Linked DNA regions of Homo sapiens. The protein of the gene in region 2 interacts with the protein of the main gene of each other region in a biochemical or structural test. Each region holds a gene or a part of one and is shown on either strand. Other genes may lie near its edges.

Region 1 (2,434 bases), on a different chromosome or scaffold from region 2:
AGCACCTGCCCTAGAGTGAGGCTGCCCAGGAAAAACAGACCTGAGAGACCCAGAGCGTGGACCCAACCCCGCCCCCCGCACTGTCTCTCCTGACCCCTGCACCCCCTCCCACCTCCTCAGTCCCTGGAAGCCCGGCCTTCCTATCTGGCTTCAGCTGGTTTGAGTTGGAATTCTATCACTTGCTCAAAAGGGCAGTGAATGTCCCAGAGGCCTGGAACCCGACCCCTCTGGATTCTAGAGCCCCAGGTTCTGAGCTGAGGAATGCAAAGTGCTGGGGTTCCACAGTGGGGGTTCCCTCTGAGGAAAAGGGTGAGAGGGAAGGGGGAGCCTGTGACGACGGGGGCTTGAAGAAGGGCTCTTACCTGGCCAGCTTTCTCCTTGTTGATGAGCAGGCGAGGGGTGGAGAGGGGTGCCCTGTGGGGAGGGGGAGCTAAGGGGTCAGGGTCTGTCCTGGCCCTGGGTGCCCAGCCGTCCTCCCAGCCACAGCCCCCAACCTACTTGCTGATGAGGGAGGCAAAGGGCTGCACCTGCAAGGAGGTACCCATGACCAGGAGGAGGTCCACCTTCAGGAAGTCCTGCGGGGAGGGGCGTGAGCTTGGGAGCCTCCGCCCAGGCTGCGCCACCGCTCCCTCCCCCGCCCCCAGCAGCAAACCTCCCTGCCGCCCCCCATAGCTGGGGAGGTGACCTTTCCTGAGGCAGGGCCCAGGCTGCCCCCATGGGGCCCAGCACAGGTGGAGGCGGCGGTTGGGGATGCGGGGAGGCTGGGGGGCCACTTACTGACTGCATACAGGAGAAGAAACGCGCTGGGAGGCTCTCACCAAAAAAGACGATATCTGAGGTGGAGACAGATGGACGGACAGAGACAGTGACATGGGGAGGCAGAGAGGACAGGTGGGAGCAATGGCAGACCCGGAGGCCACAGTGGGAGTTGGGAGCAGTGGGGACCGGCCAGGGGCACAGACCCCATTCTCCCCAGGATGGATCTGGGGCACTGTTCAGAGAGACAGAGGTGGCCAGATGTGTGCGGGTGTGGCCTTTGGGAGGGGGTCAGGGGGAGGAGGGGACCCCCACCCAAATCCACCTGGGCAGGTCCCTGGCCAGAGGCTCACCAGGCTTCACCAGGCTCTGACAGTCTTCACACTTGGGCGTCACCTCAGAGAAGATCTTCTCTGGGTATGGGGAAGGGGAAGAAAGAGAAGGCAGTAAGAGGATCTGGGCCGGAGTCTGGAGGTGCAGCACCCCCACCCCTCTTCCACTGTTAACATGAACACACCTCCATCACTTGGAGTGTGATGGGTGTCTCCTGAGGTGTCCACTCTGCTCAGAAAAGACCTCTCTTCTTGTTGTTGCATTTTTTTTGTTTTTTTCTTTCTTTTTTTTTTTGAGATAAGGTCTCACTCTGTTGCCCGGGCTGGAATGCAGTGGCACGATCATGGCTTACTGTAGCCTCAACCTCCCAGCTTCAAGTGATCCTCCTGCCTCAGCCTCCTGAGTAGCTGGGATTACAGGTGCATGCCAGCACGCCCGGCTAAATTTTGTATTTTTTGTAGAGACAGGGTTTCGCCATGTTGCCCAGGCTGGTCTCAAACTCCTGGGCTCAAGCAAATCTGCCCACTTTGGCTTCTCAAAGAGCTGCAATTACAGGTGTGAGCCACTGCGCCCGGCCTTATTGGTTTGTTTGTTTTTTTGAGACAGGTTCTCACTCTGTTGCCCAGGCTGGAGTGTGGTGGTGCAATCATGGTTGAGTGCAGTGGTGTGATCATAGCTTACTGCACCACCGACTTCCCAGGCTCAAGTGATCCTCCTGCCTTAGCCTCCCGAGTAGCTGGGCTCACAGGCATCCACCATCGCACCTGGCTACATTTTATTTTTTTTAGAGATGGGATCTCCCTATGTTGCCCAGGCTGTTCTCAAACTCCTGGGCTCAAGTGATCCACCCACCTCGACGTCCAAAAGTGTTGGGATTACAGGCATGAGCCACTGTGCCTGGCCTTATTTCTTATTGATTTAGGAAGCTTGAAAGCATTTCTGGCCGGGTGTGGTGGCTCACGCCTGTAATCCCAGCACTTTGGGAGGCTGAGGCGAGTGGATCGTTTGAGGTCAGGAGTTTGAGACCAGCCTGGCCAACGTGGTGAAACCCCGTCTCTACTAAAAATATAAAAATTAGCCAGGGGTTGTAGCACGTGCCTGTAATCCCAGCTACTTGGGAGGCCGAGGCAGGGAGAATTGCTTGAACCCGGGAGGCGGAGGTTGCAGTGAGCCGAGATTGCACCACTGCACTCCAGCCTGGGTGACAGAGCAAGACTCCATCTCAAAAAAAAAAAAAAGAAAGAAAGAAAGCATTTCTGTCACTTGCAACCCACTGAATTCTAAGTCATTTGCTCAACTGTCCATTCATTCATTCAGCACACATTTATAAAGCATTGTTTCAATG
Region 2 (3,655 bases):
GCGTTTGTAACGCAGCTCACTGGATGGGGGCTGGTTCCAGTTGGCAGAGAGGTAGCCAAACTCATCCCAGAACTTGATGATTCCCCTCTGGGCTGGAAAGCAAACACCGATACATCATGTTAGGAGCCAGCCTCTCTCTCTCCCTACATTCAGGTGAAGAGAAAAGGCAGAGGCCCAGCAGCCCAGCCCCATTACCGATGGCAATATCCTTCCAATACTGCGCCAGGTGCTCCCCCATTGCTCGGAGCAGGTGCCGGTACTCCTTGGCATCAGCAAAGTCCTGTTTGTTGTGTGTAGGCTCCAGGACCAGGTAGGGCACATCAACAACCCCAACAACCCCGCCACATGCCCTACAGGGAGAAAGAGAACAAGCTCTGTCACCCCACTGGCAACGCCCTCCTGCCAACTATCCTGGGCTAGACAGCTCTCTGTGGGTAGTACTCACATGCCCCCTTCCAGCTGTGGGCCCACTTTCTCATACATTTTGATCAGTCGGCTACAGTTGTAGATGAACATGCCATCCAGATCCCGGTGTTCAATGTTGACACCAAAAACAAAATTCAGTTCCTTAGGTTCTTTAAGTGCTCTAAGAAGACAAAAAAACTCAAGCAGATCTACACATCGGCACACAAGCACCATAGTGTTTAAGATGTGTTAAGCTTAAGCTTAAACTTGAAACATGTTAAGCCAAAAGTTTTGTATCTCTATTTGATGTGTAACCTGTTAGACTTGATATGGACATGCACTGGGCACCAACTCAAAGCATCCCTAATTAAAAACATGAGTGTGGCTTTTTGGCAACAGGGATGGTTGCCAAACCATTCATATTCATTAAATATGAATTGTTTATTACGAAGCTGCTGCAAATCTGTGCAAAGACAATTATATGTTGGAATAAACACCAGGTTATCGTCATACCTTCCCCAAAATTCCACTAGTATGATAGTAAATTATTATAATTTTTTTTTGAGACATAGTCTTGCTCTGTCGCCCAGGCTGGAGTGCAGTGGTGCGATCTCCGCTCACTGCAATCTCCGCACCCTGCATTCACACCATTCTCCTGCCTCAGCCTCCCAAGTAGCTGGGACTACAGGTGCCCGCCACCATGCCCGGCTAATTTTTTGTATTTTTAGTAGAGACAGGGTTTCACTGTGTTAGCCAGGATGGTCTCGATCTCCTGACCTCGTGATCCACCCACCTCAGCCTCCCAAAGTGCTGGGATTACAGGCGTGAGCCACCGTGCCCGGCCAATTATTATTATTTTAAAAGGCAAAAATTCACAAGAATAATAAGCATGTGCAATAAGACACCATCATGTGATTACTATCAACAAAAACTTAGAGCTGAAAAGCAGATGGATGAGGAGTGGACTGACTTGGAGAGAAAAAACCTGAAACCCATGCCTGTGCCAAGGAGGCCAACAAGAGGCAAAACAGTGAATCAAGCCACAGAGTCCAAAGAGGATCCAGACATGGAGGTGGGACAAGCAGGAAACTTAATGATCCAGGACAAATGCTGGTTCTAAATGCAAAAGTATACAACACTCAATCTCCAGCATTATTCTACATACATAACCACTGAGGAGAAAATGAATATGAAAAAATATATATGTAACATAAAAAATAGGGTCGTATCACCAGGTGGTAGAAGTATAAGGGAGTTTAAAAATGTTACTCCTTAAACATTTTATATTTTTCAAGTTTCATACAATGAGCATTTTATACATCCTTTAAATGAAAAGAAAGAAAGAAAAAGGGAAGAAAAGGTAAGACAGTGCCAAAGGATGGTTTTGGTGCTCGAGCCGAGGTTGTCAGCCCTGCCCTGTCTTTATGACTCAAAAAAGGGCTGAGAGCTAGGATTAAGACTTCCCTCCTGCAGGAGGCATTTGACAAGCATTTGGCATTAAAACAAAGCAGTCTTGGTGACAGAATAGCAACCTGTCAATAATCAGTCCAAAAGCTACGTCAGTTTAAAAGATCCAAGGACAGGCCTGGCACTCACCGCTGCTTGGCCTCCTTGATCCTCTTCTTGACATCGGCTTCTCTGCGCAGAGTGATGGCTCTGTTCTGGACCTGTCGCAACATCACCTGCACACATTGACATCAGGTGAGGGGAGGTGGCACTCTAGGCCACAGCAGGGAATATTGAAACATTACATCTAAGACATCTCAATTTATCTCAAAGATGTAAAACCACACCTGGAAATTTACTTCTTTCTACAGAAAACAGCCCTCACTGGGGACAAACTCAAAAGCTGTGTTTTACTTGACCAGGCTCATGGGACATGGGCTCCTAGTGCCAGAAACGCTGGAGAACAGCCGCCTGGGCCGGGACCTTACCCTGGAGTCCCGCGTGAGGTCTCCACCTAGGCGTACTTCTAATGTCCGAGCTTTGCTCTCTGCCTCCCGCGCCTTCTCTTCAGCTGAAACCCAGAAGAGAACATGGTAAGAAATGCAAAGGTTCAAAACTCTTGGTCATCCCTCCTGGATCCACAGTACTGGACACGAAGTGTGTACACCACCAAGGAAAAAAAGAGTAGGGGGAGCTATGGCTGGTGAGCAATGTGAGGGCAGCCTCTGTGCCTGGACGGCAGTCAGTCACAGAAGGAAAATCTGGCATTCAAACCTATCACGGAGGCCCCAAGGAAACTTTACAAATGAACCAGAACAGGTTTAAAAAAAAAAAAAAAACACCTAAGGCAACCAGTTGAACACTCAGCTTGAGCTGGAAGCTAAAGAAGTCTTCAGCCAATCACTCTCCAACAAGCAGCCGAGAAACCCTGAGAAACCCTGAACAGCGAGAGAGCCCCTGAGATGTTTGCCCTGAAGTCAGGAAAAGCAATTTCACAAGTATTTGCACCAGAGAACTCAGTGGGATTCTTCAATTGGGATAAGCCAAAGAGCTGACACTTTTAGGCCCTATAAATGGCAGAAGAAGAGAAAGTGGAGTGTAGAAAGAAGAAATGCTGAGGGAGTTGGCATGTAGTGAAAGGGGCTGCAAAGGAACTGAACTATGCTTCAGGAGACCAGCCTTGTCCCTGAGTTGTGGACTCAGCCTTTTCCTGGAACCCCACTTTGCCCACAAGCAGCATACCCCAGATGCACACCCCCCCAACTCCTGCACCCAGAGTGGCATTACCAATCCTTGCTACGTGCTCTGCTTTCTTCACCTCCTGCTCCGCACGGGTCTTGAAACGGCTTGACGTGTACTTGTACATCCTGATCAGTAGAAAAAGCAAGCTGATGGCCCACGCAGCAGTGGGGCAGGTGGCACACCCAAGCACAGGAAGCACCCTGCCTTCCTGCCTCCTCCCAAGCTGTGCTGTCCTGGCCCCTCATGATGAGACAAATCCAAGCTCAATTCAGCAAAAAGGTGCAGTTCCTTATTCCACTTGCCCTTAGCCTCCTGCTGTCTTTGATAAGCAACCTCACCATTCACCAGGGTTGTCATTCATCCCACAGCAGAAACAAACCTCAGGAGTAAGCCAAGCCCACTGCTTTCCTATATAGTGTCTAAAGGCCCCTTGGCCCTAAAGCCAAGAGACTCAGACAGCTCACTGAGCCAGGCAGGGCACCCTCCCTGTCACAGAGGCACACATACTCAATGAGCTTAGCCAGCCACCTCCACAGCTGATCTGTCCCTCCTCTAGGACCCA

What was found. Proteins that work in one complex are often made in the same cells at the same time.
Region 1: the proteins of MORC2 (region 2) and SIRT2 form a complex in vitro, tested with the Homo sapiens proteins (one study listed by BioGRID).

What each region holds. Positions count from the first base shown.
Region 1 is NC_000019.10:38,880,323-38,882,756, forward strand, and holds part of SIRT2 (NAD-dependent protein deacetylase sirtuin-2), read right to left. Parts: intron 1,170-2,434; coding exon 1,110-1,169; intron 834-1,109; coding exon 778-833; intron 576-777; coding exon 499-575; intron 415-498; coding exon 363-414; intron 1-362. UniProt on the Homo sapiens protein: NAD-dependent protein deacetylase, which deacetylates internal lysines on histone and alpha-tubulin as well as many other proteins such as key transcription factors.
Region 2 is NC_000022.11:30,937,620-30,941,274, forward strand, and holds part of MORC2 (ATPase MORC2), read right to left. Parts: intron 3,219-3,655; coding exon 3,139-3,218; intron 2,423-3,138; coding exon 2,340-2,422; intron 2,088-2,339; coding exon 2,002-2,087; intron 587-2,001; coding exon 446-586; intron 351-445; coding exon 196-350; intron 93-195; coding exon 1-92. UniProt on the Homo sapiens protein: Essential for epigenetic silencing by the HUSH (human silencing hub) complex. Recruited by HUSH to target site in heterochromatin, the ATPase activity and homodimerization are critical for HUSH-mediated silencing.